Homo sapiens: one gene and its partners. The protein of the gene in region 1 purifies or fractionates together with the protein of each later gene. This does not show direct contact. Each region holds a gene or a part of one and is shown on either strand. Other genes may lie near its edges.

The links.
Region 2: the proteins of FNTB (region 1) and DHX57 purify together in Homo sapiens (affinity purification with mass spectrometry, with the first as the bait; 3 studies listed by BioGRID). This does not show direct contact.
Region 3: the proteins of FNTB (region 1) and DYRK1A purify together in Homo sapiens (affinity purification with mass spectrometry; 5 studies listed by BioGRID). This does not show direct contact.

The regions. Positions count from the first base shown.
Region 1 is NC_000014.9:64,989,880-64,996,916, reverse strand, and holds part of FNTB (protein farnesyltransferase subunit beta), read right to left. Parts: intron 1-7,037. UniProt on the Homo sapiens protein: Essential subunit of the farnesyltransferase complex. Catalyzes the transfer of a farnesyl moiety from farnesyl diphosphate to a cysteine at the fourth position from the C-terminus of several proteins having the C-terminal sequence Cys-aliphatic-aliphatic-X.
Region 2 is NC_000002.12:38,872,932-38,880,307, reverse strand, and holds the start of DHX57 (putative ATP-dependent RNA helicase DHX57), read left to right. Parts: upstream 1-4,373; 5' UTR 4,374-4,521; exon of another isoform or gene 4,522-4,763; intron 4,764-7,376. Other genes in the region: MORN2 (MORN repeat-containing protein 2), read right to left, coding at 79-129, 4,198-4,255. UniProt on the Homo sapiens protein: Probable ATP-binding RNA helicase.
Region 3 is NC_000021.9:37,509,739-37,516,775, reverse strand, and holds part of DYRK1A (dual specificity tyrosine-phosphorylation-regulated kinase 1A), read right to left. Parts: intron 4,866-7,037; coding exon 4,245-4,865; 3' UTR 1-4,244. UniProt on the Homo sapiens protein: Dual-specificity kinase which possesses both serine/threonine and tyrosine kinase activities. Exhibits a substrate preference for proline at position P+1 and arginine at position P-3.

The DNA of each region.
Region 1 (7,037 bases):
GATGCACACACAACTTATGATAAGGGCTGCTTCTGGGAAGGGTGGCAGGCACACTGAACTGGGGATAGGGTTAAAGGAGGCTTTGGCTATATTTCTAATTGCTTTTCCTTTAAACAAATAACCAGAAGCAAAAAAAAAAAAAAAAAAAAAGATGTTAGCAAATGTTAATTCTCAGTTATAGAAAAATGGCTCTTAATTACATTATTATACTTTTGTTAACCATAAATTTCTTAGAAAAATAAAGGAAAAGGATTTCAAAGTGCTTAGTTTTGTGATACCTCATCCCCTACACCTACTTAGATAGGCAGGCCACAACATACGCAGAAGCTGTGTTCTCAAAGTTCATTGGTTTTTAGACCTTATTTGTTTTCCCATCAACACAATGTTATACCTAACTGTTAGGTTCCAAGGCCAGCTCTCCCATTATTTAATGTATAACCTAACAAATGTTAAGCCTAACAGTACCTCTCTCACCTTCTCTAATCATGAGGCAACTGATCACTCACGATATGGCAAAAAGGGAACCCAAGAGTTGAGTTTACCCCTGCTCCTGACAGGGCACAGGCTAGATGTTTCTTTTCTTTTCTTTCTTACTTTCTCTCCCCTCTCTGTCTTTCTTTCTTTCTTATAATAGAGATGGGCCTCACCATGTTGCACAGGCTGGTCTCAAATTCCTGGCTTCAAGCAGTCCTCCTGCCTCAGCCTCCCAAAGTGCTGGGATCACGGGCATGAGCCACGGTGCCCAGCCCAGGCTTGGTTGTTTCTTTTCTTTTTTCTTTTTTTTTTTTTTTTTGAGACAGAGTTTTGCTCTTGTCATGCAGGCTGGAGTGCAATAGCATGATCTCAGCTCACTGCAACCTCCACCTCTCAGGTTCAAGCGATTCTCCTGCCTCAGCCTCCTGAGTAGCTGGGACTACAGGTGCCTGCCACCAGGCCTGGCTAATTTTTGTATTTTTAGTAGAGATAGGGTTTGACCAAGTTGGCCAGGCTGGTCTCAACCTCAGGAGATTCGCGTGCCTCAGCCTCCCAAAGTGCAGAGATTACAGATATGAGCCATTGCACCCAGCCCCAGGCTAGGTGTTTCTGTGTACAGAATGTTTTCAAGTTTGCTGGTCAGGCTTTATACATACATACATACATACATACGTACATATACATACATACACTTATATGCACACATGTATATATATAAAATATATACATATATAATATACACATATATCTTTAAAATATATAATATAAACTAAGTATGTATCAACTTATAAACTATACACACATATATGATATAAACTAATATAGTAATGTGCCACATAAGGATGTTTTGGTCAAGAACGTACCCCATATTCCACGGCAGTCCCGTTAAGACTATGATGGAGCTGAAAAATCCCTACAGCCTAGTAACACAGCTTTCATGATGTTGTAGCACAAAGCATTACTCACATGCCTGTGGTGATGCTGGTGTAAATAAACCTACTGCACTGTCAGTGTTATAAAAGTATAACACATACAATTATGTACAGTACATAACACTTGATAATGATAATAAACAACTACATTACTAATTCACATGTTTACTATACTATATATTATTATTTTAGAGTGTAACTCTACTTATTTAAAAAATTAACTATAAAACAGCTTGAGGCAGGTCCTTCAGGAGGAATTCCTGAAGAACGCACTGTTATCCTAGGAGATGACAGCTCCATGCCTATCACTGTCCCCGAAGGCCTTCCAGTGGGATGAAATGTGGAGATGGAAGGCAGTGACACTGATGATCCTGACCCTGTCTAGGTCCAGGCTAATGTGTGCGTTTGTGTCTTGGTTTTTAACAAAGAAGTTTAAAAGGTAAAAAGAAAGTTAAAAAATTTAAAGTAGAAAACAGCTTACAGAATAAAAATATACAGAAAATATTTTTGTACAGCAGTACAATGTGCTTGTGTTTTAAACTGTTATTACAAAAGGGTCAAAAAGCTGTAAAAAAATTTTTTAAGTTCATGAAGTAAATAATTTACAGTAAGCTAGGTTTAATTTATTATTGAAAGAAAAAAGCGTATGAATAAATTTAGTGTAGCTTAAGCATACCGTGTTTATTTTTATTTTTCATAATGTCTGCTCAGTAACAAGTGTACAGTGTTTATAAAGTCTACAGTAGTGTACACTCATATCCTAGGGCTTCACATTCATTCACCACTCATTCACTCACTCACCCAGAGCAACTTCCAGGCCCACAAGCTCCATTCATGCTAAGTTCCCTAGATAGGTCTATCATTTTTTATCTTTTATAACATATTTTTACTTTACCTTTTCTATATTTACATATGTTTAGATACAAAAATATTTACCATTGTGTTCCAATTGCCTGCAGTATTTAGTACAGTAACATACTGTGTAGGTTTGTAGCCTGTAGCCTAGGAGCAACAAGCTATACCATATAGCCTAGGTGTGTAGTAGGCTATGCCATCTACATTTGTGTTAAGTACACTCTATGATGTTCACATGACAAGGAAATTTCCTACTGACAATGTATTTCTACTGTTAAGTGATACATAACTATATGTATATTAGTTTGTATTGTTCAGTAATGGAGAGATTGTGTTAGACTCTAGGGGCCAGGGATCAAGTAACTGTACTAGGGTCCCCAACACTTAGGTGCCATGGCAATAAATAAATGAAGAGCTAACCAAATGCCTGCATTCTGGACAGCTCTGTTTAAAAGGTATTTCATGGAGTTTTTCATTTAATCAATAGAAATCCAATCACTAGGCCAGGCATGGTACCTCACGCCTGTAATCCCAGCACTTTGGGAGGTGGAAGCGGGTGGATCATTTGAGGTCAGGAGTTTGAGACCAGCCTGGTCAACATGGTAAAACCCCACCTCTACTAAAATACAAAAATTAGCCGGGTGTGGTAGCACATGCCTGTAATCCCAGGTACTTGGGAGCCTGAGGCAGGAGAATCGCTTGAACCCAGGAGGCGGAGGTTACGGTGAGTGGAGATCGCACCACTGCACTCCAGCCTGGGCGACAAGAGCGAAACTCTGTCTCAAAAAAAATAAAAATAAAAAAAGAAAAAAAAAAAGAAATCCAATCAATAAAAGCAGAGAATAGTTTCCATTCAGTAAGTGGTAAACAACAACTAATGCATTTGGCACTTTCTCTTTCACAGCTTCTATCTAAAGCCAATCTCATGAGGCACCAACTTTCATACCAGGCACTATCACTTCTCTGCTTCCTATATCTCCCTCCTCTCCCAGAGACAGAATGTTTCAGAAAGTAGATTTGCTGCCTAAGATTCATGTCATTGAAGCTGCAGTAGAAGAGTCATTTAATATATGAAATATAAGGCAAGACTTTTCAAAAAAAATTCTCTCTCAGAAAATACAAGTCACTTTATATTCAAATACTTACAAAGTACCTCTTGCTGTAGGAAGTTTTGCAATTTCCTTATTTTGAATACAAAGTACCAGCTGGGGATGACACAATACCCTAAAACAACCTCAGTTAAGGCTGCTTTGGCTAATGGTAATCAGTGAAACAAGATAAATTAAACACAAATTTAGTAATTATCCCTGGAGATATAAACTCACACTTCCATGTGTAAACTGCCATTGTAAGGCCAGCTTTTTATTTTGTTTATTCATTTTTTACTTTTTTTAGAGATGGAGTCTCACCCTGTTGCCCAGGCTGTCTCGAATTTGTGGGCTCAAGCTATCCACCCACTTGGCCTTCCAAAGTGCCAGGATTACAGGCATCAGTCACCATGCCTGGCCAGTAGACCAACGTTTTAAAGATCATTTTAGCTGGGCGCGGTGGCTCATGCCTGTACTTTGGGAGTCCAAGGTGGGCGGATAGCTCGAGTTCGGGACCAGCCTGGGCAACACAGGGAAACCCTGTCTCTACAAAAAAATATAAAAAGTAGCCGAACATGGTAGCGCACGCCAGTAGTTCCAGCTAGTCAAGAGGCTGAGGTGGAAGGATCACTTGAGCCTGGAAAGTTGCTACAGTGAGCCATGATCATGCCACTGCACTCCAGCCTGGGAAACAGAGTGAGACCCTGTCTTTAAAAAAAAATAGAAATCATTTGAAAAAGTAATAAAGTGGTTAAGTTGCAGTGACCACAAATATATACCAACTGGAAACACTGCAAAAAAAAAATTCTAGGCTCACGTCTGTAATCCCAACACTTTGGTAGGCCAAGGCAGGCCTGTGAGGTCAAGGCTACAGTGAGTGGTGATTGCATCACCGCACTCCAGCCTGGGCGACAAAGTGAGACCCTTTCTTAAAAAAAAAGTCTAATGTTATGCAAGTGGATACTTGTAACTTGGAATAAACTGTTCAGTGGTAACACCTTATTCATATTCAAAAACGATGTATCTCAAGAACTGAACATGTGGTCCGGAAATCCACATTGGCTGACTCAAAAAGTGGCTCCAGTGATGATAAAAATAGTGAAGTCAAAGATGCATGTGAAGAGTCTGAAAAGAAACATTTTATAAATAAGAAGAGGAGGAAAACCAGCATTTCTAAATTAGTGTTACTTTATAAAGTAGGTGATTTTAAGTAGGTATATGGACCCAAATTTAAATGTAAATTTTGTAAGCAGGTATTTTTCACTTATATACCTAAAAGTACATGTATTTTCAACTTGACCAAAAACAACCTTTTGGACTTTTTAATGGGGAAATTTTGATATGCAGGATTACTTTACACTTGGGCAATATGGTATATGCTGAATTTCAATAAAATAAAATGGATTCAGAAAGCTAGCCTACTGACCACCTAACCAAGCAGAGCTCCAGTCCCTTCTATCAGAGGCATAAAAAGTTGGGAAGTTTTATCATATTTAGTGATTTGTTCCACCTCCATTTACTAATATTTTGGATCCTATAAGCTGAAATAAGTCAACAGCAGGTCAGGATTCTGTTCCGCTGGTCCCTCCTTAGGATATGTGGTGGCCCACTGCCCGAACCTGAAGCCAGCACATCACCTGCCTCTTAATACCCTGATAGGGGCCCACCCGCCCAGCTCACCTCATTTCCTACCACATCCAACCTGCACCCTCCGTTCCTGGTAAGCCATCTTAACGCCCCCAGTCAAGCCTGAGTCTTCCCTCAAAACAGCTCTCCCTCCTTGAATGGCTGCCCCAAACTCTATTTTTTACAGCCCACCCAGTTCCACGTTCTCCATGAAGTCATCCTGACCACCTCAGCCCACACAGATGGCTTTTCAACTCCCCAAAATCCTCGTGCAAAGCAGTTATAATTTAGCACTCTGTGACTGCCTATAGCATATTCTTCTTATTTTTTTCTTTTTTGAGATGGAGTCTTGCTCTGTCACCCAGGCTTGAGTGCAATGGTGCAATCTCGGCTCACTGCAACCTCCGCCTCCCAGGTTAAAGAGATTCACCTGCCTCAGTGTCCTGAGTAGCTGGTATTACAGGTGCACACCACCACGCCTAGCTAATTTTTGTATTTTTTTAGTAGAGATGAGGTTTCACCATGTTGGCTAGGCTGGTCTCAAACTCCTGACCTCCAGTGATCCGCCAGCCTCAGCCTCCCAAAGTGCTGGGATTACAGGAGTGAGCCACCGCACTCGGCCTTACAGCATATTCTTTTTTATCTCTCTAAGATAAAAGAATTTTGAGGGCAGGGATCAAGACTAATAATTCTCTTATATTCCCCTCAGAGTTCAAGTCACTTCATTGACAATGAACCATGCCAATGGTTCAATGACACCATGCCATTTAAAGTGGAGGACGCGTTTGCCTCTGTTCAAAGACAAACTCAAAGAAAAACAGTAGTATCTTTTGTAAACACCTGTTTTTGGCAAGGCTGCTACCTCTGAGACTATCAGTATTAACCTACTGGCCTGAATCAGAGTGTCTGCAATGGGATGATTCCAGATGGCACAATAAGGAAGGCAGGCACTAACAATACAACCATGTCTTGTTCTCTAGTGTCATGAAAGGCCCTCCCTGCATCTGCATTAACAAAACAGCTTAGCAAGGTAGAGACCTTCATAAAAATATCCAGAGCTGACCATTTCTCATTACCTCCACTACCGTCACTGTGAGCTAAGCCACCGTCACCTCTCTCCCAGGATACTGCAATAGCCTCCTAACTGGTTTCCCTGTATCCACCCTCACTCCCCACCATCTACTCTTGACAGTAACCTAAATGAGCCTGTTAAAATGCTAGTCAGACTGTGTCACTCCCCTGCTCAAAACTCTCTGATCATGGATCAGTCTAAGTCCTGGCAGGAAACAGATGGCACAAAGTGGGTGATTTGAGGAGAGTTTATAAAGGAACTATTTACAAAGATGTGGGCAGGTGTAGGGAAACCACAAGAGAAAATGCAGTATCTGGAGCTGGTAAATCAGGGGTACCTGAACTCCTCATAGACCTGAAGGTGTGAAGGATGGAGAGGGAGGGAGACAAAGAGCTCCGCAGAGAAGGCACATGACAGGAAATGTGACCTTAAGTCTAAGGAAACCCCACCCCACACAAGCCTGCAGGAGGGAAGAAATACAGTGGTCTCATTCTTCTCCTTCTCGGTCACCCCCAGCAATACTTCCCATGGCCCGCAGCCATAAAGCAAGGCAACCTGTCAGTGCAGGGCCCCCTCCTGGGGCACATCTACAGAGCAGGCTAGAAAAGGGCCAAGTGAATCTGGGGCAGTAAATGGCAGGTATACAGCCAAGTGGCTCTCCATCTCAGTCAGGGTATTTTAAAGTACTTCCAAAGGCCAATGAGACCCTACATGATCCGACCCATCTCCTACTCTCTGGTTTGCTAAGCCCCCTGCTCACCTGGCATTCTGCTGCCTTGGTCCTTTGTGCTTGCTGCTTTCTCTGCCCAGAATACTCTTGCACCAGATCCATGATGGCTTCCTCCCTCATCTGAGACTTCAGGTCTCAGATCACATGTGTTGTCACCAGAGGGTTCCCCTTAACACCTTATATGAAGACCTCCCCTGCTCCCACCCCACCCATTCCTGACACACCCTATCCCCTCTATCCCAAGGTGTTACTCTCCACAG
Region 2 (7,376 bases), on another chromosome or scaffold:
AAATTTAACAGTCTCAGTTTTTTATTCCTAAGCTATTTAATTTTCTATACAGAAAAAGTAATTGAAGCGTATACTTACCATACTTGTCTCCATTTGGAAAGATAAAGCTGATCTTATACACTTCTGAAGCTGTTTTAAAAGATTTAAAAACAGTGACATAAGTTTACTTTTTTTTCGATAGAGGCAAGGTTTCACTACATTGCCCAGGCCAGTCTCAAACTCCTGGGCTCAAGCGATCCTCCCGCCTCAGCCTCCCAAAGTGCTGGGGATGCAAATGTGAGCCACCACACCCAACCAAGTGTAAACATTCTTATGTCATAAGACCTATACCCAATGTGCTTTCAGCACTATCCAAATGGACTTACTTCTCAAGATCACATCATATCATGATTACTTGGTATTTCCATTGTCTAATGTAGGGTCCCGGGGAAATAAACAATTTTGCCTAGATGATCTCTTTTAAAATTTATTTATTATGATAGCTTTATTAATATATAATTCACACACCACAAAATCTACCCTTTAAAAAAATACAATTTGATTTTTTTAGTATATTCAGAGTTGTGCAACTATCATCACAATCTAATTTTAGAATATTTTAATCATCCCAGAAAGAAACTCTGTACACATTAGCAGTTACCCATTATGATTCCCCTCAAACACCCCTCACCCCACAACCCCAAACCCCTGGCAACCACTAATCTACTTTCTGCCTCAGGGATTTGCCTATTCTGGACATTTCTTATAAATGAAATCATATAATATGTGGTCCTTTATGTCTGGCTCGTTTCACTTAATGTTTCCAAGGCTCATCCATGTTGCATCGTGTATCAGTACTTCATTCCTTTTTATAGCCAAGTATATTGTATAAATATGTTGTACAGAAACAGCATATTTTGTTTATTCATTCATCAGTTCATGGACATGTAGGTTGTTTCCAGTTTGAGGCCATTATGAATAATACTGCTATAAACACTGATGTACATTTTCAAAACATACAGCTTCCTAGGAGTAAAAAAAAAATTGGTGTACAGATTTTTGTGTGGATATGTTTTTATTTCTCTTTGGTAGCCCATATGATTTACTGATTGTCCCACAGAGGTAAGGTGGAGTGAGGAATCTTTAAATTGGCAATAGGAAGAAATGGAAAATAAAGATAGCAAGTGGGGAAGGGCTGGTAGGTCCACACAGAATGAGACTGGAATGGAGACCAAGTGAAAAAGGAAGAAAGAGGACCGCAAGACTGAGGGGGACTCTGGGCCTCAGATCCCTGGACACTTACTGGACTAAAACTAGAAACTGTATTTTCCGATACTGAAGAAAACTTATGTAGAGACGGTATGCAGGCCCATCCTTCAGAATCACCTGAGATGCTTCTAAGTTTCTTCTCTCTACCCCACATCTACTGAATCAGTCTTTACGGGTGGGGCAAGGGAATTTAAAAATTAATTTAGGTACCACTTGAGAAAGGCTTGGAGGCTCATCACTGAGGAAACAGAGTTAACACAATAGGTAGAGGACTTAAACTGTAACATCCTCAGAGAGAAAGGGAGAGTATTAGTATCCTTGAAATAGGAACAGGTGATTACAAAAAACAAAAAACAATTAGCAATCCAGGAAATGAATAATATAATTGGTGAAATAAAACTTCTTAGAAGGGATGAAAAGCAGAATAGATACAATTGAAAACAAATTAGTGAACTGGAACATTAGGTTGAAAAATGTGCTTAGAAAGTAGCACAAAGTGTGAGTGAGATGGCTGGAAAAAAAATTTTTTAATTAAAAAAAAAGAAAGTAGCACAAAGAATTTTAAAATGATGGAAAGTGGATCCAAAAGGCTACTGTCAGTCTAATAAGAATTCCAGAGGGAAAGAATAAGGGATATTTGAATAAATAGCCAAATTTTTCTCAGAACTGAAGAAAATGACTGCTTGGACTACAAATGGGAACTAAGCAAAATCCCACACCTAGACAGGTTACAGTACAATTTCATGACATAAAGACCAAAGGCCAGCTAGGCTAGTTAAAAACAAGCAAACAAAAACCAGATTACCTACAATAAACTACAAAGGACTGACATTAGCAACAGTGGATTCTAAAAAAAAATGGCACTATGTCTTTAAAATTCCGAGACAAAATTATTTTCAACCTAATATTCTACATCCAACGAAACTATCAATCTAAAATCATGGAAACTGGCAGGCACGCTGGTAGGATGAATTACTGGCTCATGCCTGGAATCCCAGCACTTCGGGAGGCTGAGGAGGGTGGGTTGCTTGAGCCTAGGAGTTCGAGACCAGCCTGGGCAACATGGTGAAACCCATTCTCCACAAAAAATACAAGAATTAGCTGGGTGTGGTGTTGCATGCTTGTTGTCCATGCTACTTGGGGGCTGAGGTGGGAGGATCGCTTGAGCCCAGGAAGTGAAGGCTGCAGTGAGTCCGATCACACCCTGCCCTCCAGCCTGGGTGAGACAGCAAGACTCTGTCTTAAAAAAATAATAAAATAAAAAAAATTAAGTTTTAAAAATAGAATCTGGTGGCTCATGCCTGTAATCCCAACGCTTTGGGTGGGTGAGGTGGGAGGACTGCTTGAGCCCAGGAGTTTGAGACCAGCCTGGGCAACATAGTGAGATTCCATCTACACCAAAATTAAAAACTCAAAAAGAAAAAAAAAGAATCTGTAACTAAAACTCAGGTAATATCAATATGGAAATGGTGTGGAGGATAGAGAGCAATCTTGCTAGAATTCTGATCTCGTTTAGGGGTTAAATATAGACACTAATTAACACTAAATCTTAGAAAAATCTGAATTTAGTTATGTTTGCTTATTTTTTCCCCATAATTTCTAAGATTTGGTTGTGGATAAAGGGTGAAGTATGGTGGTATACAGAAATTGCCATGTGTGCTCATTAATTAGTTATTTACATGTCTGCAAGATGTGAAATTCCAAGAGAGCAGGGACACAGAGCTACTTTCTTTCTTTTTTATTTTTTAATTTAATTTAATTTAATTTAATTTATTTATTTATTTATTTATTTTTGAGACGGAGTCTCGCTCTGTCGCCCAGGCTGGAGTGCAGTGGCTTGATCTCGTCTCACTGCAACCTCCGCCTCCCGGGTTCACGCCATTCTCCTGCCTCAGCCTCCCAAGTAGCTGGAACTACAGGCGTCAGAGCTACTTTCTAAGTGTTTAACTAATGATAACTAACTAGATTACCAGATCTGCTTGTAGTTTCCCACAGATGCCATGCCGTACTCTGGGTGGAACACCCTTCTCTTCTTTACCTGGTTAACTGCTATTCATCCTCAAGAGTTGGCAAAATAGAGTGTAGTAGTTAGGGGTTCATGCTCTGGCATCGGACTACCTACCTTTGCATCCAGACTCCACCATTTTCTCTGACCTTGGACAAATAATTATCTTATGCCTCAGTTTCCTCATCCTTAGATGGGGCAAATCAAGTAAATGAGCTAATCTAGTTAAAGCACTTAGCCCAGTGTCTAAACTCTGTAAATATTAGCTATTGTATTCTTGTAGCCCCAGCTCAGGTATGAGCTCTCCCACAAAGCCTTTCTTCTCATTACTTGTCAACCTCAGACTCCTTCAGGAACCCCCACGGCACTCTGGGCCTATTCCTACTGTAGTACTTAAGGTTCTATTAAAACCATGCTTTTGTATCGGGATCCCCTATCCCACCCAGTTCCTCCAGGACACGGATGGCAGATTAGTCAAATCTCTTCTCACCCCACTGTCCGACTCCGTGTTTAGTACTAATAGTAACAGAACGTCTAGTGAATGAAGGGCACTTCGGAAGGAATCGTTAAGTGCCTATGAAGCAGAGCATTAAACGTAATCATATCAGAAACTGGACTGTTTTCAATTGCCGCTAAAATGTTCTACATTCGAAACTTGGGAACGTCAGAGCTAGAGGGAACCTCACAGAGACCACCCGGCACCATAGCGGAAACTGAGGCCCAGGGAGGTTGGCACGCGCCTCGGGTGTCTCAACAGCGAATTAACAACAGAATCAGAGCTAGATTCCCAGACCAGGGGTTCCCCCGTGCCCCTCGGCTAGACGGTCAGGAAATATATCACACCCCCACAGGAGTTACCGGGAGCCAAGCAGGTTCTGACTCCACGCTAGTTCGACTTAAAGGAGCTCTTCTCTGCCCGGGTCGTTAGGAGGAGGGACACTCACTTGGCCGAGAGGTGTTAGAGAGATCTTCCAAACTCTGCGACTCCCCCTGGGCGGCCAGCTCTGCGGCCGGGAGAGAACTAGGCGCTAGGACAGCTCCAGGTGCGACTTGGTTGCTGGGGCGACCGGGCACCTCTCACCCGGAAGCGAATACGCGAGGGGCTGTAGCTGAGCCAATCAGAAGGCGCCGGGACTGTGCCGCTGCAGCTGGGCCACCGCAGGGCTGCTCCAAGTGAGAATCGTGAGGGTGGCCAAGTCCAGTTTGGACCTCTGACCCTTGGGCAGCACCTCCCGACAGCCGGCTCGGGACCCAACTCTGCGAGCCAGGTACGTCTTCCACTTCTGCGGACAAGTGATGCGCGTTGTGCGCACGGTGTGCGCGTCACCCTGTTTGTCAGTGTGTCTGCCGCCTCCTGCTCCAGGAGTGGTCGGGATCTGACGAGCATCGCGGCCCAGTGTGTTTCATCCAGTCTGCCTGGGGCCGGTGAATCTGGACCAGCAGGATCCCAGGCCCTGATACCGAACCAAGGCGGGCTCTGCCGCTGAGGTTGTCCACGCTCAAACTGCAGGTTGGGGCCGGGGGGGGCGGGGCGTGAAATTCAGTCTTGGAGCAGGCTAAGGGGTTGATTGAAGGGATCAGGCTCCGTTCTCTGACTCCGTCTGTGTGGCTTTTTTGGGGAGAAGGGTGGGGACGATGTGAGTTCGAAAAAGGATACGAGATCTGGATATCTGGATGGAGCTGGATATATTGTGATCAGTCAGAGATCTGCCTGGGAGGAGAGTAGTGTGTAGTCACTTTTCAGTGCCTTGGCTATCAAACAAAGAATACTCTTACAGCCAAACTTAGGTCCCTGTATCCATGGTGAAGAAAGATAGTTGGAGTCTTCCCGGGCTAGATGGAATAGATAGTGGAATCTAACCACGTGGATTATACAACCTAATTCCTATTCCCTTGAAAACTCTGGGAGAGTGGTATTGGACACCATTACAGTCAGTAAATCTTCGTTTAAAATGTTAAGCGCATATCTCAGATCTAGTTGTAAAAGTAACATTTTCTGGGTTGGTGTGAGACAACTTGTTTTGATTCAGCGTAAGTATCCTCTTGCTTTTTCCTAATGTTTCTCAGTACACAAATTTACCTGGGCTGCATGGTTTTTGAGATGAAGTTCTAATCTAACTGATTTGTTATTTCATTTCCCTAAATTTTAGAAATAATAGGTAATTATTGGTGCACAACCTTACAGAATTCAGTTTGACCTGTTATTTTTCTTGCCTGTTAAGATTTTAATGACTCTACATTTTTGTGAGTAAAGTTGACGTTTGAACAACATGGGTATGAACTACCCGGCTCCACTTACAGGTGGATTTTTCCCAACCCAACACAGATTGAAAATACAGTATTTCAGGTCGGGCGCGGTGGCTCACGCCTGTAATCCCAGCACTGTGGGAGGCCGAGGCGGGCGGATCACGAGGTCAGGAGATCGAGACCATCCTGGCTAACACGGTGAAACCCTGTCTCTACTAAAAATACAAAAAATTAGCCGGGCATGGTGGCGGGTGCCTGTAGTCCCAGCTACTCAGGAGGCTGAGGCAGGAGAATGGCGTGAACCCGGGAGGTGGAGGTTGCAGTGAGCTGAGACTGCGCCAGTGCACTCCAGCCTGGGCGACAGAGTGAGACTCTGTCTCAAAAAAAAAAAAAAAAAAAAAAAAAATACAGTATTTCAACTAGGCACAGTGGCTCATGCCGGTAATCTCAGCACTTTGGGAGGCCAAGGTGAGACGATTGCTTGAGCTCAGGAGTACGAGACCAGCTTGGGCAGCAAAGCGAAACCTCATTTCTACTAAAAAATGTTTAAAGTAGCTGGGTGTGGTGGTGCACCTGTGGTCCCAGCTATTCAGGAGGCTGAGGCAGGAGGATTGCTTGAGCCTAGGAGATCGAGGCTGCAGTAAGCTATGATCGTACCACTGCACTGCAGCCTGGGTGATAGAGCAAGATCCAGTCTCAAAAAAAAAGAAAGAAAGAAAAAAGAAAAGACAGTATTCCTGGAATGCAAAACCCACATACAGAGGGCCAACTTTTCCTCTATGCAGGTTCTACAGGGCTGACTGGAGAACTTGAGTATCCGTGGATTTTGGTATACATGGGGGTTCTGGAACCAATCCCCTGTGTATACCGAGGGATGACTATTTCATGGCTCATTCTGTCAATTTCTTCCGGATGTCCTTTAAAATCTCAAAGAGGCCTTACCCAACCACTCTATCTAAAATAACTGCCTCGGGGGTTTTTTTTCCTTGATAGCACTTAAGTTATAATATATATCTATTTGTTTAATGTCTGTGTTACCCTCTAGAAGGTAAGCTTCATGAAGCAGAAATTTTGTCTTTTTTGCTGTTATATCCCCAGGATCTGGCACATAATAAGTGCTCAATAAATATTTGTGGAATGAATAAATAGATGAACAAATCTCCATTCCCACATAAGTCATTTTTTCAACCTTCAATCATTCATTCCACAAATAGATACTGAATTCCTACCATATGCTAGACACTGTGTTAAGGGTACAGTGGTAATCAAAATAGACATAGTCTTGTTTTCAAAGAGCTTTCTGGGAGTAGAAAGGAGAGACAAACTTAAGATAAACTCTGAATACATATGTATAATCATCAGCAATTTTGAAGAAAGGAATACCTAGGAAGACCTAGTTTAATATACACATATTTGTGAGTTTCCCAAATTTTTTCTAGCTTTTGATTTCTAATTCCATTTTGGTTGGAGAACATAGTTCATATTATTTCTTTCTTTTTACATTTATTGAGGTTTATGGCTGGGCACAGTGGCTCACGCCTGTAATCCCTGCACTTTGGGAGGCCAAGGTGGACAGATCACCTGAGGTCAGGAATTCGAGACCAGCCTGACCAACATGGTGAAACACCATCTCTACTAAAAATACAAAAATTAGTCAGGGAGCATGGTGGCGGGTGCCTGTAGTCCCAGCTACTCGGGAGGCTGAGGCAGGAGAATCGCTTGAACCTGGGAGGCGGAGGTTGCTGTGAGCCAAGATTGTGCCACTGCACTCCAGCCTGGGCGACAGAGCAAGACTCTGTCTTAAAAAAAAAAAAATGTATTGAGGTTTCTTTTATCACCTAGTATGGTCTATATCCTGGAAAATGTTTCATGTGTA
Region 3 (7,037 bases), on another chromosome or scaffold:
AAAGTTCTGATGCAAGAACACCCACTGAGAGCAGCCAAAATCTGGGACCTTGGCTATGCATAATGCCAAAGAGAGCCAAACACACCAAGCGATGAGCCACTTACCTCAATGAACATGTCTTCCACAAAACAAGCATCCAGTGCCTTCAACACAGGCATACGTCAAAAATTCCTGGTCCAGGGTGAAAGCCCAGTAGGCATCCACAGGCTGGTTCTCAGTGGATTCATTTGGATTAAGGTTAGTCATTAAAAGGGAGGATAACAAATAAGCTATCTTCTTAGGGTTTCTTCTCTTGTTCTTTGTACTACAAATTACTTGGTGATGTATGTTTTCACGCAAGGAAACAGGCCTAGATAAGAAACCAGGGTTATGAAAATCAGAACTTCTCCTCTACTCTCCCTGACACCAAAGGTTTTCCAACGTCTGGTCAACAGACATCCCTAGCAGATTTTTAAGAAATCTGAATGAAGTCTGGGTATACCGAAGTCACGCACGGCTTTTGTCCCCATTACATTTTCAAACTTCCTTCATATATAGCAGTAAGACCAAGTCATGTATTTGGAATGAACCATCTGGTCTATTACATACAGTCTACCACTATAAAAATGGACATAAAAATGAGTCTTGAACTTGTATTCTGTCTATGGGGATACCACCCAGAATGCACCGGATCGCATCTGAACCTGCATTCTGCGACTATCAAAATAAAGGCAGGCCCAAAGGAAACTGAGAAACTGGCCTAGAACTGAGTGCCTGCTATCTCGTCTTCGTGTGTATTTTGATTATGTATCTCCCTATTGGAAGAACAGAAAAGTTCAACACCACAAAAGCTGGGAAGCAGTACAGGGGCAAACTCAATGGTCACTTGTGAGCCTAACATAATTACTGAATCTTTCATGATTTTTTACATGTAGTTTTAAATAAAAATGTCGGTTTTTTTTTTTCAGCCCAATATCCATGTGCCTAGGTAAAATTCTCACACCCTAAGAAGAAAACTAATGGAAGTTTTCCTTTCTTACATGTGGTTAACTTCAACTTTACGCAACCAACCTTAATTTTACAGATTCACGCTTAACTTTTAAATAAGCATCTTGCCTCTCGAAAGCCACCTTAATATATACTGAAGCAGGTGAATTTGTAAAAAGAGAAGACTTTAGGTTAGCAATTGAATCACAGTGGCAAGAATTCTAGAATTCTGATATGGCCCCGTACGAGGAGTTAGGGAAGGAAGAATGAGTATTCGTATTCCTTCCTTCATCCAAGCACGTCAAAGCATATCAGAGAAAACCATCAGACCCTCACATCCAGTCGAAATGCTACCAACTAAAATATGAGCATTTTGAATCACAAAATTATGTAAACATTCAAATAAAAAAATCAATGTGAAAAATCAAAATGATCTGTTAAACCTCCAATTTTTACTTTCAGAGATTGCTGATGCCTATGTCAATGTATCTCAAATAGTTTCCTTTTTACACATTTAACTCAACTTTGATACTATACCTACCAGACCTGGACCAGTTTAATTGCATAGGAAGATTTTTACTATGTTTACATTTTTCTTAAATTAATTTTTAAAAAAGCATAGTAAAGAGTCTGAGGACAAATTATTCAACTGTTTATCATACATAAGACCGCATGACTATAATACAAAGGGGGGTTCTTTTTTCATTTAACGTTACAATATACACAGCAAGTCCGGACTAGATCTTACAATCTGAACACAGGTATTTAACCTTTTCCATGCTGTTTATGTTTACAATGCACAGAAGTCCTGTAACCAAACTGTGTAGTAAAGCACACAAAACTGGACTGTAACATAACACAGTATGCAGAAGCATTGGATTTTATGATTTTCTTTACGTAAATATCGGTTTAAAAACTGCTTTAGTTTTTTGGTGCTTGCTAAGATGTGGCAACCAGCACAGAAAAAAAAAATGACCTGACCCATATGATATCTTAACCTTATATTCCTAAACAGCAGTAACTACTGAATTCCTTTTGATATTGCTATACTCAAGATGATATCCTTTTATTCACTGTAAACCTTTATGAACTACCAAGTTCAAAAAAATCATCCACAGGCTTGACAGTTAATTACAAAATAAATATGGATTTCCTGATAAACAACAAAAAGTTTTTGTAGTTTATAAAAACGAGTATTTCCAAGTTTCCATTCACATTTACATAGTGTTTAGCCTTTCTTTTCTCACTGTTTACATATAAAAACCTGCTTTTGTTCAGAAAAAAAATTGACCTAGTCAGCCACATGGAATTGACCAATAGAATGAAACGCGGTGTTCTGCTGAGTCATCTTAAACAGGTTATCGGCAGAGGTAGATTACTGCTTCTTTTCTAGGCTTCTTTTGATCCTGGACAGGTAAATTACTTATCTTCATTCTCCCAATTCAACCGCTCAAAAGTGTCACACCCCAAAATTGGTCAATTTAAAATGGGAACACAAATTTAGCAACTGCCAGACTGTGTTACATTAAGGCAGCGTAATCTCAACACGAGGCACCTGTTAAATACCAGCCTGTCTGCTCAGGTCACGCATGAGAGTTCTGCTTTGCTTGCACTCATACTCTGGACCTGTTGGTGCAATCAAGGTCTTGCTTTCAAGTTTACAAGTAGGTTAATCAGGAATACAAGAATCAACTGCTGGTTCCATAGCTTCTGGATCCAGTGTCCCTTTACCTTCAGAAGCCTGAACACACTTAGAATGTAACAGATGTTGTAATCTTGAATTAGATGTCAATCTACTATGTTCAGTACACAGATTGCTGTAAATGTATTGGCTATGGATTCAACAACAGTTCCAGTTTTGTTTAAGCAATAGTACAGCCATAATTTTCAACTGACATTTAAAAATGGTCTAGTTACACCTTGTGTCAAAGTGCAGAACTGCTACATTATTGGTTACAGACATCTATGTGCTATAAAAACAGCTTTGGTACAATAAATTATCAAAAAAGAAAATAAATTTTTGTAAAATTCACAGCATAATTGTGAGGCAAAAAAGCAGTCACATAAAATTCTGCATTTTTTAAAAATGTTCAGGATGAACAGAAGACATCTTTGTGCAGAAGAAATGGTGGAGATACCACGTGCCGAGAAAAAGCAAAAGAAAAAGTAAAAAGCAGGAAGGGACACAGCTGTAGCTATTTCCATCAAAGCAAACCACTACTTCTGTGACCTTCAACCAATAAGGAAGTCAACTTTATGACACACGCAAAGTGACCTTGCAATACCTTACAATTAGTGGGTCACAAAAGTCTATTTTAAAAGAAAGGCCTCTTGAATTACCCATTCTCTGTGTTTTCAGCATTAAGGACTGTCTGCAAAAGCATGTCCAAAAGTGATTGCATCTGAAATGGTAGGCTCTTCTAATTTCGAGTCCAAATCCATAAGGCCAAAGGTTATCCCAAAGACCACCACTCAGACCTCCCCAGGACTGGCCACGACCGACCCGTTGATTGCTTCTCAGTGCACCTTGGTTAGGAGACCAGTCACGTTCCATCCTATCTTCCTGTGGCCTCTGCAACGGGAGAGCCACAGGATCCCATGTAATTGCTGCTTTGCTCCTCAGTAGGTTCAGATAGGAGAGTTCTGATCCCCGCCACTCAGCATGCTTACTGTGCCTGACAAACTTCACCACAACCGTCCCTTTCATACAGCTGAAGATGGTGTTTGTGGAAGCTGGAGGTCCCTCTTCCTTACAGTACTGCATTTCCGTGCCCAAGTGTGTTTAGAGGACTTAAAAACCCAAATTTCCCACCCTCCCACCCAAAACAAAACAGAACAAAACAAAAAAAAAGGGGGATGGGGGGGACAAAAAGAAAAAAAAAAAACACCCTCATGGGGCCCTTTATGCAAATTATGTGCAGTGCCTTTTACTTTAAAATTAGTTGGCAAATGACCAAGACCAACATCTGAATATTAACTTTTGCTGAATAGAAAGACAAAAAAACCCCACTGTGACTGGGATGTGGCAAGTTAAAATGGGGGAGCAAAAAGAGGATACCTCTGAGCTATCCATGAAGATGGGTTTGGACATGGCTCTTTTAAACACTTCAATGTCCCTTTGCAATCTTTTCAAGTTAAAAAAAAAATCAGCTTTGCCCTCTTGTAGCGGTTCAGTGTGTTAATCTCCTCCTGATTCAAGCAGCTTTGCACTTTGTTTTTGGAAAAAAAACACCACTTCTATAAAAACACACAAGAAACAAACTCAAGTTTCAATGTAGTCACGAGCTAGCTACAGGACTCTGTTGCACACAAACTCCTGTCATGGGGGACTCTTCTCTATCAGCCCCTTGCCTCATTGTCAGATGTCCTTCAGTCATGTAATGTGCAGGACCTGTATTAGCAGAAAATTGGTATGTTGGATGTCCAGCTATGCCAGTCTCTTGGCGGGGATTGGAGTAGACGGTCAAATTAACGTCCATAGCTCCATTCTGTCCAAAGTCCAAGGTATTAGCAGCCACTGGGCGATTCTGGTAGGCCTGATTGCCTTGGTTACCAGTAGAGGAGGAAGATGTCGAGGAAGAAGTCGTTGAGGAAGACAGGGATGTCATGGAGTGGTGACTGTGGCCAACCTCCATAGAATCTTGGGTAGAGGAGCTATTCGTTGGAGAATTGTAGACCCTTGGCCTGGTCCGGTTACCCAAGGCTTGTTGTCCATGGTGGTGGTGATGGTGGTGGTGGTGGTGATGGTGATGGGAACTGTTACCATGGTGATGATGCAATGCATTCTGTTGAGGGGCTACATGAAAGGTTGTTTCTTGAACAGGATGAGTTTCAACAGTGACCTGTGTAGGAGCTTCAGTGCCTGACCAACCAAGAGGAGCAGGAAATTGCTGACGCACCTGAAAGAACAGATTTTTAAAAGGATTTTTCAGAGGACTGTTTCCAAGCTTTAATCTTCCATCAAAAGCCATGACACTAACAAACTAGCATCATATTAATCAGGGGGAAACGGTTTTTGAAACTTTTAATGTGTTAAGACAGTTTTATAACACAAAATCCCAAATACATTCAAGGGCAAAAAATTTCATCATGAAAGCTGCAATTTTTAGGAAGTTATATCCTTAAATAGGTTCATCTATTTCACTAGCCACTGTCCTTCCTTGGGAGCCCTGTTTATGCCAGGGGTCAGCAAATATTTCCTGAAAAGGGCTGGACAGTATTCTGGGCAGGTCCAAAAGGAAGTCTTTACTTTTCCCTCATGTCCTTCCTCTCTCCATCTTTCTTCTTTCAATAAAGGACTACTATCTACCTAGCTGCTCAACAATGCCTCTGTCCAACCCATGAGCAAGAACTTATGAGTCTACCTGTGAAACAGATTCCAAATTTGGCCTCTTCTCTTCATCCCCATCATCTCTTGCCTACGCTAACACAACAGCCCCTTAAATGAACTCCTTGTTTCCATCCTTGCCCTTCTCCAAAGGGTAGCAGGAACAATCTTTTCTTAACACAAATCCAATCACTTCCCTATTTAAAATCCTTTAATGACTTCTCACTGCACTTAGAAAAACAAAATAAACCCAAATGGATACAACGATCTGCATCATCTGGCCAATGCCCACTTCTCTAACCTCTTTCTCCACCCATCCTATCCCTGGCTACCTGAGTTCCAAACAAAGAAGACCTGCCTTCCATTCCTCCCCTGGGTCAAAATCTCTCAAATGCCTCAGTGTACTAGTAACACGCTGCTCCCTTCTGCCTAGAAATGTTATTTCTTGGATTTTCTTATTGCTTGGATGTCTCTTTTTCATCGCTTCAGTTCCAGAGCCTTCCCTGACCACTCTGGCTGATGCTGCCTCAACAACTGTGGCAGAAGCTACTGGTTGTGCACAATATTCTTCTCGTTCCTGAGCACATGGCTACACAACACTTCCCAGCCTCCCTTGTACTTACTGATGGCCATATGTCTAAGCTGTCAATGGAATGTGAATGAAAGCTTGTGTCACTGCTAGCCTGGCACACAAGATAATACCTCCCAAGTCCTTCTGCCTGCTGGACACAGTAGACAAGTAGGCCCTAGGGCAAGGTGGAACCACAAGATGGTAGGAGATCAGGACCTGGAAGACGGCCTAGCCACTAACCTGAACACCTATTCTGGACTGTTGCACAAAAATGAAGGAAACTTGGTACTCTTTAAGCTACCATATTTTGGGGGTCTGTTATATCAGAGTTTGGCCTATTCTAATTAATACATCCTATCCAACAAACAGTCTTTCTCTACCAAATTATCCTTATTTTCTTTTTAACAGCTAATGCTACTTGCCATTTTTCTTCATGTTCATTTTATTTACTTGTGTCACTGTAAGCTCTAGGAAGGCAAAAGGCTCAGTCTCTATCCAGTGGCTGGCACAAATTGTTAAGGGTTTATTCAACAAAGGTGGTCTGAGAACCAAACTTTTAAGAGATACTACTGAAAACAATCAGTAGAAAAGCTGGCAGTGAGTTCTCAGAAAATACTATATGGTTTTTATATGAAGTTAATCAAGTTACTGGATTAGAAAATCACATGGGGGGCAATCTGGCAATAGTTATCAAAATTATAAATCACATTACCCTTTGAAACAGTCATTCTGCTTTCAGGAATTTATATCACAGATAAAATGTCTATGTGTGAATGAGACATGTACAGTGGTGCCTCCTTATCCACAAGAGATACAGTCCAAGATCCCCACTGGATGCCTGAAACTGCAGAGGACTAAACCCTCTATATACTATGTTTTTTGATCTGATAATCTAGATGGCTACAAAGCAAAGTAACTTATCTACTGTGTGGACATGCTAGACGAAGGGATGAGTCATGCCCAGGGTGGGACAGCATGAGATTTCATCGTGCTACTCATAACAGAATTTAAAACTTACGAATTGCTTCTGAAATTTTCCACTTTATATTTTTGGACCGTGACTGACTGAATAACTGGAACTGTGGATAAGAAGGGACACTACCGTACAGGGTTATTTATTAAACTACCATTTGTAAATAGTAAAAAAGGTTGGAAATGAACTAAATGTCCATT